Linked DNA regions of Homo sapiens: region 1 is linked to region 2. The links come from fine-mapping of genetic effects on gene expression. A gene starts in region 2. The other region holds a variant in brackets. All regions are shown on one strand. Distances are from middle to middle.

Region 1 (5,366 bases), 45 kb after region 2:
ACATTCAGCAGGCGTTCAGTGGGGAAGCAGGAGACAGAGGCGGCGCTCACAGGACCCGCTCCAGGCTTGTCACAGCCACACATCACAGCACTTTGGGTTTTGCCACAACAGAGCAGCTCTGAGCTCAATCCTTGCACCTCAGAAGTGCATTTATGATTAAAATCATGCTCGACATGAAGCCCTGTTATGATGTGCAGTTTAAAAAGAGAAACGGGTCCAAATCAGCACCAACAGAGCCCCCCAGGGGGCTCCAAGACTCGCCCCAGAGACAGCAGAAGGACCCCATGTGCGCGCTGATCTGTAAGAAGGGTGGTGGATGCAGCAGCAGGGGGCTGCGTCCAAAGGCAGCAGGTGGGGGCCTCTCATAGTGTGACCCTGGGCAGGCCACTCCCCTACCCCGGTACCCTCACCTGAAAAATGGGACAGCAACACAATGAGACAACAGAGACTGTCTAGAATATAAAGAAAAGAATGAAAAGGTCCATCCCAAGGGCAGCCTGGTGGGGACGGGGACAGGCAGTGGGGGGAGGCTGCCTCTGGAAGACCTGTCCCAGCAGAATCAGCCCCCACCTCTGCCCTGCCTTCCAACCTTTGAACCACCAGGCAGTAGACACATTCCCCTGGGAAACAGAATTTGCAAGGCAGGTGGAAAGAGCAGCACTCACACTGGCTGTGACTGCTGAAAAATGCTCATTGGCCCTTCTCGAGGACTGAAAGGAGATTCGGAATCACATTTAAAATTAACCCGTGACCCACTTCCTGTAAAACTGAAGATCACCCTCTAACAGCCCTAACAAACAGGCTCTGGCCGTCTCCTGACCCTAACCCGGTGGAGCAGCTGACTGGACGCAGTGACGCCACCACTGAGGTTCTGCAGGGTGGAGGCGGCCAGGCTGGCTCACTGCATGAGGTGGACGGTAGCTGCCTTGCGGATGAGCCGCTCGGTCAGGGGCGAGTTGGGCTTCAAGGCATCACGCTCCATCAGAAGGCTCCTGTGGAAACAGACACAGAGGTCCTGTTACAGAACCTTCTAGAGGGATGTGGGGCCTGGTGGTCCCTTGGTCCCAAGGCAGAACACAGGCAGGCTAGACTGCGGCACTGAGGGAACAGCAAGGGCCAAGGCCCAGGGGCAGGAGGCCTGGCCTCAGTTTGGGGAGAGGTGAGGATGGGAGGGCACAGACCTCCAGTGCAGGAAGCCACACCCGAGATGGGGCACAACAGGTGGCAGTGGGGAAAACCCAGGTTTGAAGAGAGAAGACCCAGGTACGGTTTGAGGTAAAGACCCTGCTGTGGACTGAATGTCTGTGTCCAGGCTAAATGTATATGTTGAAGCCCAAATGCCCAAGGTGATGGTATTAAGAACAGGGCCTCTTGGAGGTGATTAAGTCATGAGGGTGGGGCCCTTGTGAATGGGATTAGTGCCCTTATAAGAAGAGATAGGTGTGGTGGCTCACCCCTGTAATCCCTGCACGATGGAAGGATGAGGCAGGAAGATTCCTTGAGCCCAGGAGTTTGAGTTTACAGTGAACTGTGATCACACCACTGCATTCCAACCTGGATGACCGAGTGAGACCTTGCCTCTAAAAATATAAAAAAATTTAAAAAGAAAGAAGAAAGAAGAGACGTGAAAGAATTAGCACTCAAAGGAAAGGTCATGTGAGGACACAGCAAGAAAGTGGCTGTCCACAAGCCAGGAAGAGAGGCCTCAGCAGAAACTGAACCCAGCCAGGCCTTGTTCCTGGACATTCCAGCCTCCAGAACTGTGAGACAGTGCATGCCTACTGTGCAAGCCGCCCAGACTGTGGCACTTTTATTTTTTAATTTTTTGAGATAGAATCTCCCTCGGTCACTCAGGCTGGAGTGCAATGACGCGATCTCGGCTCACTGCAACCTCCACCTCCCAGGTTCAAGCGATTCTCCTGCCTCAGGCTCCCGACTAGCCGGGATTACAGGTACCCACCACCACGCCCGGCTAATTTTTTGTATTTTTAGTAGAGGCGGAGTTTCACCATATTAGCCAGGCTGGTCTTGAACTCCTGACCTCAGGTGATCCACCCGCCTTGGCCTCCGAAAGTGCTGGGATTACAGGCATGAGCCACCGTGCCCGGCCTGTCTGTGGCACTTTTAAAATAACAACCCAAACTGACTAAGACAGCCCCCAAACACCTGAAAACAGTGGTTCTAGAGGGCGTGGGTGGTGTGAAGGGGCTGGGGCCGGGAACTCATTGTGGGGGGCACCATGGCTGTGGGTGGAAGGTTTCCCACCTTGGGGGCTGGTGAGCTGTGCTGATGGCCCCATGGATGCTGCCTGGTAGCAGGACAGGACTTGGAGAGAAGGCCCCCTCCACGTCTCCTAATGCAGTCGGCTCCCTGTGCAGCCTGCTCTCCCCCTGCCCTCCCCCACTGGGCCCCGCAGAAGGCCACATCGGCACTGCCGCACTGCCCCACAGATGTCACCCCAGCTCCATCCTCAGCCCTCCTGTCCACACAGCCACTTTCCCCACCGCTGCTGCCAGAGGCACCAACTCCCACCCACACCACAGCCTGAGCTCCCCAGGGGGCTTGACCACCAAAGAAACACGCATGGTTTTGTCTACAGCCATGGAAGGGGAAAGCGGGGAGCATGCGTCCAAGACATTTTACAGTTCTAGGCGGTTCCAGTGCTGCCAGCCAGACCTGTTTCATGAGTACCACAGAACCTGTACAGCTCAGTTTGGGTAACCCTGCCTGGAGGGAGCTGCGCTGGTGCACCTGCGCCTAAACCACTGGGCTTGTCACCAGCCAAGGGCCTCCTGTGGACCCGGGCTGCCACCTGCTCTCACAGCACACCTTCCCCACCAGGCACCCCATGACTCCTCTATTCTTCCTTTCACTTATGTCTGAGGGTGGCAGGGACATGGGCAAGGAGAGGTGTCAAACTCGCCGCTCAGGCACACGGGCTACGCAGCTGCTGGCCAAGAGCTCAGCAGCCTAAGTGGAGGGAGGCAAGCTGGGCCATGGAAGCACCAAGGCTGCTGGCAATGGTGAGGGCTCTTTGGAGTTCCCCCAGCACTCTCATCTGCCAGCTATGCCACCCTCCTGACACTCGCCTGCCAGCCACACCACCCTCCTAACACTCACCCTCCAGCCACGCCACCCTAACACACCTTCCAGCCACGCCACCCTCCTAACACTCACCCTCCAGCCACGCCACCCTCCTAACACTCACCCTCCAGCCACACCACCCTCCTAACACCCTCCAGCCACGCTGCCCTAACACACTCACCCTCCAGCCATGCCACCCTAACACTCACCCTCCAGCCAC[G/A]CCACCCTCCTACCAGCCCCATGCCTGGCCTGGCTAAACCCACTGTGGTTTCGGGTCTGCCCTCAGCTGCTGCTCCCTCAGTGCGAGTTTACGTGTCTGTGGGACTGATTGCTCCCTGTCGCTCCCCCGACTACAGATGGGCTCCTGGTAGCCAGTGACTGGTGTGCCTGCTCACTGCTCCCTCTCGGTACCCAGCACAGGCAGGCAGGTGAAATGAGCTGAGGTCTAACTGAGCATTAGGTGTCGGCCAGGTGCAAAAAAGGAGAAAGGGTGTTCCAAGCGTGCAAAGGCCCAGGAGCCTGAAAGAGCAGGACGTGTTTACGTACCCAGGTAGCTTAGCAAGGCTAAAAGGGAGTGGGCTGGGAAGGGTGGGAGGTTGGGCCTGGGGTGGGGCTGGCTCCACTTGGTCACACTGAGCCTGCTAACAAAGGAGAACCAAATTCCCCACAGCCTCCCGACCTCACAGCCTCAGAAGCAGGAGCATCTCGGGCCAAGGGTGGTGGGGCTTCCAGGCACTCCTGAGGTCTGCAGGGAGAGCCTGTGAAGGTCGGGAGTGCTGGGCAGGGGCCAGGAGCTCACCGGGCTACGTTCTTATGGACGCTGGAGGTGCAGTTTAAGGCCGCGTGAATCAGCAGCTGGTTGAAGACGTCTCTCTGAAATGTCAATCGGGCATGTGAGTCTCCTGTACCTCAGGATGGGGGAGGCGAGCCCCCGCCCACCGCGGGCTGCCTGCTCTCCAGGGAGACAGTGGTGTTGATGCCACACCCTCAACGACGAACTTACACGGCGGGAGTGTGAGAGACACGTTCACACCCACATTGTTGGCACCAACACCATGGGAGAAACTTGGGGGCTGCGGGGCGCCCAGACTCCCTGGCCCAGGCCCTAGGCACCCCAGCTGGCGGCCATCGGCTCACCTGGGCATTGCTCCCACCGAGCTGGACGATCCGGTAGCGGATGGGCAGGAGCAGCTCCAGGACGCGGTCAGGGTTCCCGTCCTCAGCCTCCACCAGGGCCTGGCACAGGGGCAGCCCCACGTCTCGGGCCAGGAGGTGCTGGCAGTTCTCCCCTGGGGATCTGCGAACCCAAGACGGTGCCCTCAGCTGCCTGCCCATCACAGAACATCCGGGAAGGGCAGAGCCATTTCTTCCTCAGCGAGGTGTCCCTGGTCCAGTGCCTGACACATGCCACACTGATGAGGTGAGGTGACAGGCGGGGCAGCCCATCGAGGGGACAGGACAGGGTACTGAGCTCAGAGCTGGGTTGGAGTTCGCCCACTTCCAGCTACCTGGTCCCCCACCTTCCAGCCTCAGTTTGCTCATCTGTAAGCAGGCATAACAGTGCCAATCTAACAGAACCGTCAGGATTGCTGATAATACAGGCAAAGGCCTGGCACTGCAAGCCAAGGCAATCATCACCCCCGGAAGGGAATGGGCAGGGCAGCCCAGGTCCTCCAGGTCAGCCCTCACCAGCTCTTGCCAGGCATCGCCCTGATTTAGATGGGGAAACTGAGGTTCAGAGCACAGAAGCACCTCGTCCAGGACCTCAGGGCCTGTAAGCAGCAGGTGTCTCTGGCTTCAGGGCTTCACTGTGTCCTCTCCACGGGAGGCAGCCCTGTGACCCTGCGGATCTCATACCCACCCTGGGGATGGAGGCAGCTCTGTGTCTTGGGGCAACCAGTTGTACAGCTGTGGGTGTACACACCTTGGGGGTCTGCACCAGGGGATGCACATCTATAGGGGTGCACACCTGGGAGCTGCCTCCATGGGCATCCCCCCTGCTGCACTCACAGGCGGGGCAGGCACTGAACAGGTCTCAGCATGGCCCTAGCACCCCCTCACCCTCTCGGCAGGGTGAGGACCCCCACCCCGAGAAGGCCCCTCTGCATACTCGCTGGCGTCCCGCAGGGTGGTCAGCAGCTCCTGTGTGGTCTGGGGGTCGTGTGCACCCAGGGATGCCATCAGGAAGTGTGCGTCATTGAACAGCAGGATGTGGTCTCGGCTGTGCTTCCGGGCCACAGGCAGGACATCCTGCCACCGCTGGCCCACAGACACTCCTGAGG
Region 2 (5,366 bases):
CACGCTGCTCTCGTTACCCCATTTGGAGTCCCTTCTCTACAACTTTGTTTGCAACCCCTCCTCTCCGGTGAAGCCTTCTTGATTACTCCACACTGCAAGTTTCTCCCTCCTCTGGGTTCAGTGACTGATAGCATCACTGGTACTTCCTGCGTGCCACGCATCACTGTCACCTCTTGTGAAGATAATGTCCTCCCAACTAGACCGCAAACTCCTACAGAGCCAGGTCACAGTGAAGACATCTTAATGTTCCTAGATGTGGCACACGCCTAGCACACAGCACTTAATTATTGAGATTATATTGGATTTTAGAAAAGTTTTTGTTTGTTTCTTGTTTTCAGAGGCACAGGCCATGTATCACCTCTTTCTCAGAAATCCCCTAATCGCTGACCCACATAGCACACAGGCATTGGTGCTCACCTTCCAGGGGAGCCCTCAGCCTTAGCTCCCCTATCCTAACTGGGCAACAGAAACAGCTCAAGGTCCAAGAAAGCATTAAAGAGACTTCAGGCAAGTGGCAAAATGACAGGAGTGAGAGAGCTGGGTGTGCTGTGGGGTCCAGGCCTCGCCTCTAACACAGAGCCCCGAGGGTGGCTGAGGCCTCTTGCAGTCTTCAGCACCACCGTGGAGGGAGAGCGCTGGGCTGCAGCACAGGCGTCGGTCTGGCTGGTTACCGGATCCTTCCACTGCAAGGATCCACAGTGTGAGGAAGCTTCCTTTGTGCTGTGACCCGCACTCACCTGAACACATCATTCCAATACTCCTTTACGTAGGACACTTGATGGAAAGGGATGTCTAAGATCTGGCAAACTCTGTAAGCATCTTCACAGTCTTTGTCGGCAGTACAGACCCCATGTTCATCCAGTGAGTCCCAGTTCTTCATAAACACCCCTGTCACCTGGTAACCTGCGGGCGGGAAGGTCAATTAAAGAGAATACATAAATCAACCTTCGGTAAAACGGCAGTGATTTCTGAGCTCTGAGAAGTTCCCCACACGCTGTGCTCCTGTGCCTCTGTGCCTGGCCTGCCGGGCAGTCCCTGCTTTGCCATGTGGCTTCAGGGATCCGGTTTCCATCTTGGTGCCTGAGTCCCCAAGATTAACGAGGTGGTATTTTCTCATCTTTGTGTCCCCATCTATGTATCAGCACAATACCTAGCAGGAGGGGATCAGCCAGTGTGTGTGGAATACACGAAGGAATAGTCGAAACTCAACAAAATTTTTCAAAGCACCATTCAGTTATCAAAAAAGGAAACTCTTTTCAAAAGTTATTTCTAGTTACTATCTAAGACTTAGATTCTAAGTGATCAGATATAAAGATAATTAAAATTTTCGATATTTTGTAAGAGCTGTACCACCTAGTTTATGACCTATTTTCTACCTTTTCGATTGTAACAAAATATTCACCCAAATATTGGAAAGGCCAACTTTAGCCCTACACCACCTTAGCAAACTACACAGGTGCAGACCCTGTATGAGAAAGCTGGTTCGTTTAGGTAGGCTGAATGTAATGAAAGACAGGGCAAATGACTGCTGAAGAAGGCTTCATATAGTACCCAAAACAACAGAAATTTGATGACAAAGCTTTGTCAAAACTACACCACCACACGCGAAAGACCACCCCTATCCCAGATCAACCAGACTAATGTCTACCTAACAGTCTAAAGCCCCTGGTATAGCATCTTCCATAATCAGGGCTAAACGTGCTCCAGGCTCCTCTCCTTCCATCTCCATCTGGCCAGAACCAGCCCACACTTGCAGGCCTCTGTGATTCTGCTTGCACTGCTGACTGTGCCGGGAGGGCCGCCTCCACCTCCAAGTCTCTGCTTAGTGACATCCTACTCTTCTTTCGACTCAGCTGAGCACCTCCATCTCTAGGATGCTTTCCTCCACTCTCCCTTCCTCACAACTATTTCTGCTTATGGTCCGCCTACCCTTCTCTTTGGCACTTACTGTACCTACCATAATAGCTATGGTTATTAACAATATAAACTAATAGCCACTACTGTTTTCTGCGTACCTCGTATGTGCTGAGCACGTACTCATCAGTATGTACTATGTCATCTAATCCCTCCAGTCACCCCGTGAGGCAGGTGTTAGCCGAATTTTACAGGGGACGGCTTAATTCACTTGCCCAAGGTCAGGAGCCAAAGATGGCGCAAAGCAGAGCTCCACAAACGTGACTCTGTGAATGAGGCCTCCCGCGGGGAGCCACACAGGTGAAGTTAAACAAGTGCTCATTTCAGCGCCGGGCCCGAGGAATGCTAAGCACCCGTGGGGCTCCGTTTAGATGCCGGAAGAAATGCAAATGCTCCTGGAGAAAACTTTGTCCTCCAGCGAGCGGAGAACACAGGAGACGCTGAACAAGCAGACCCGCCGCGCGGCAGTTGTCCAGTCTGCTGAGTGGGGAGGACAAGGACCTCCCACCGGGCGGCCACAGCGTGTGCAGAGGTCAGGCCCCCGGCCCGGCGATCCCAGCTCCCCTCACCAGTGTCCACGGTCTCACAGGTGAATGTGGACGCCGCAGATCCGTGAGAAACCCTTCCCTCCCCACCCCACCCCGGCCCGCCGGCTTCTCACTGTGGGTGGGCGCGCGTGGGTGGAGAGGGGCGCGGAACTGCTCCCAGGTAGTCGGAGCTGCAGTCGCGCACACCTCCGACTACACAGGTGGAGGGCGAGGAGCCTCCGAACCAAAGTCAGAGGACGGGGTATCCTCCTGCCGACCCGCGCGCAACCAGCGGCCCAGGGAGGGAGGAGACGTGCACAACGCCACGACGGACGGGGACAGGTTTCCGGGGACACATTCGCTCGGCGGGGGGCGGGAGCCTCGGACGCCTCACCTCTCCGCCTCAGCAGCAGCGCGGCCACGGCGCTGTCCACGCCGCCGGACAGGGCGCACACGACGTGCCGCAAGGCCTGCATCCGCCAGTCGCCCAACTTCGCCAGCTGCAGCTACCGCCGCTTCCGCGCCTTGCCGGAAGTCCCGCCCCGGCCGTAGGGTCCGCGCTAGTGGCCCGGCCGGAAGCTGCGGCAGCTTACCCGCGTTCCGTCCGGCCTTCCCCTGTCCCGCGGCGGGTTCCCCTGTCTCCGGCCTGCGCTCACCCCTGAGGCTCCACCGACCCGCGGGGCGCCGAGACTCTGTCGGGCCGCGAGGGGCTGGCTTTTTTTTTGAGCCGCCGCCTTGCCCTCCCCACCCGCGCCCCGGCCTCACTGCTCTTCTTCTGCGCTGTAAACCAAAAATAAAATTCTAAGCCCCCCAGCCAGCCATTGGAGGCCTCCTCTCGGCCAAGGGCGTCCTAGAGGGAACCTGAACCGCGAGTTCGGGCTCTGATGGGAAAGGCCGGGTGGGACCCGCCTCACTAGACCCTCCTCCTCCCTTTGGAATTCGGACCAGCATTAACGTCAAAACAGACTTAAGACTGTCTAGGCGGACTCTCCGTAGCAATAGGATACCGACATGACAGATGGCAGGCCCTGAAAGATATCGAAGTATTTTACAGTATTTTAATTTAATTTAATTTTTAATTAATTAAATTTTTTTGAGATGGAGTTTTGCTCTGTCGCAGGCTGGAGTGTAGTGGGCGCGACCTCGGCTCACTGCAACCTTCACCTCCAAGATTCAAGCGATTCTCCTGCCTCAGCCTCCCTAGTAGCTGCGATTACAGGCGCCCGCCACCAAGCCCAGCTAATTTTTGTATTTTTAGTAGAGACGGGGTTTCACCGTATTTGCCAGGCTGGTCTCTCACTCCTGACCTCAAGGGATCCGCCCACCTCAGCCTCCCAAAGTGGCGGGATTACAGGTGTGAGTCACTGCCCCCGGCCCAGAAAATCTTTGAATCCACCTATGACCTGGAAGCCCCACCCCACCTTCGAGTTGTCCCACCTTTCCGGAACCAATGTTACATCTTACATGTATTGATTTATGGCTTATGTCTCCCTAAAACGTACGAAACCAAAAGCTGTAGCACCACCAGTTTGAGCACGTGTTCTCAGGATCTCCTGGGACTATGACATGAATAAATATCTTCAAATCTTTTACAGTTTGACTCCAAGCATACTCAGCACTCAATCCTTAATGTCTGTGAGGTGTGTTGGACAGGGGTTTTGTGTTCTGTCCACTCCTACTCCATGCCCAGAAAAGCCCCTGGCCCAGGGCAGGTGCTTCATAACCTCGCTGAATAAAGGAAGGAGGAGAGAATGGAGGTCATCCCCCAGGGGTGATATTCAAGCTGAGTTCTTCTCTACGAGTTAGCATCTAGACAAGGTCTACCTAAAGCACAGGGAGACTCTGAACGAAAAAGATGTTCATTTGTGAATAGGGCATTGCAATGGGAATATGCATGCCACAATAAGCTATGTGGGTATTCAGGGAAGTAAAGGAAGACAAAGGTTTTTATTTTATTTATTTATTTTTTTGAGACAGTCTCACTTGGTCACTAGGCTGGAGTGCAGTGGCGTGATCTTAGCTCACTGCAACCTCCGCCTCCCGGGTTTAAGCGATTCTCCTGCCTCAGCCTCCGGAGTAGCTGGGATTACAGGCACATGCCACCACACCCAGCTAATTTTTGTATTTTTAGTAGAGACGGCATTTCACCATGTTGGCCAGGATGGTCTTGATCTCCTGACCTTGTGATCCGCCCGCCTCGGCCTCCCAAAGTGCTGGGATTACACGCGTGAGCCACAGTGCCCGGCCTAGGAAGACAAAGGTTTTTAAAGGGAAAATGAGGATCACATCATTGTTTTGAGATAATTCTTTGGCTACAAAGATCAATAACAAGGGTGACAGCACTCCAGGGTTGGACAAGCAGTTGCTGGGCAGATGTCCTTGCAACAGAAGTTTTTTGTTTTTTTTTTTTTTTTGAGGAAGGTTACGATAGCCTTTGTGTAAAGTTGTGGTTTTTGCAGTCTTTTGTGATAGTTGTTATTATTAGGCACATGTGCATGAGAACCCTCCCTTGTGGTATGAACCCAAAGTACCTGAGACAGGTTTCAATTTAGAAAGTTTATTTTGCCAAGGTTAAGGACATGCCAGTGACACAGCCTCAGGATGATGTCCTGAGGATATGTGCCCAAGGTGGTCGAGGCACAGCTTGCTTTGATACATATTAGGGAGACACAGGACATCAATTAATACGTGTAAGATGTACACTGGTTCTGTCTGGAAAGGCGCAACAACTGGGGGTGGTGGGCAGCTCGCAGGTCATAGGTAGATAAGAGATAAACTGTTGCATTCCTTTGGGTCTTTGATCAGCCTTTCACTGAATACACAATCTCCATGTGAGAGGCAGGTAGAGGAACAGTCACTGATGCCTTAGTCTGGCTCAGTGAATCTGCATTTTCACATAAACAATAGGGCAGAGGAAGCAATCAG

Evidence for each region. PIP is the estimated chance that this variant, and not a neighbour inherited with it, causes the effect.
Region 1: its variant is fine-mapped to the expression of TRMU in blood mononuclear cells (TOPMed, PIP 0.98).

The regions. Positions count from the first base shown.
Region 1 is chr22:46,288,417-46,293,782 of GRCh38, reverse strand. TTC38 (tetratricopeptide repeat domain 38) reads right to left here. Exons shown (of 14, transcript NM_017931.4): 11 at 5,195-5,360; 12 at 4,222-4,381; 13 at 3,884-3,957; 14 at 1-992. The coding sequence ends at 899. Among named protein-coding and RNA genes, the nearest start is that of GTSE1-DT, 5.6 kb to the left of the region's middle. The variant G/A (reference allele first, on the strand shown) is at 3,305.
Region 2 is chr22:46,333,316-46,338,681 of GRCh38, reverse strand. It overlaps TRMU (tRNA mitochondrial 2-thiouridylase), which reads right to left and starts at 2,968. Exons shown (of 11, transcript NM_018006.5): 1 at 2,836-2,968; 2 at 738-903. The coding sequence starts at 2,917. RefSeq lists a silencer at 2,521-2,570 and enhancers at 2,379-2,878, 2,711-2,930.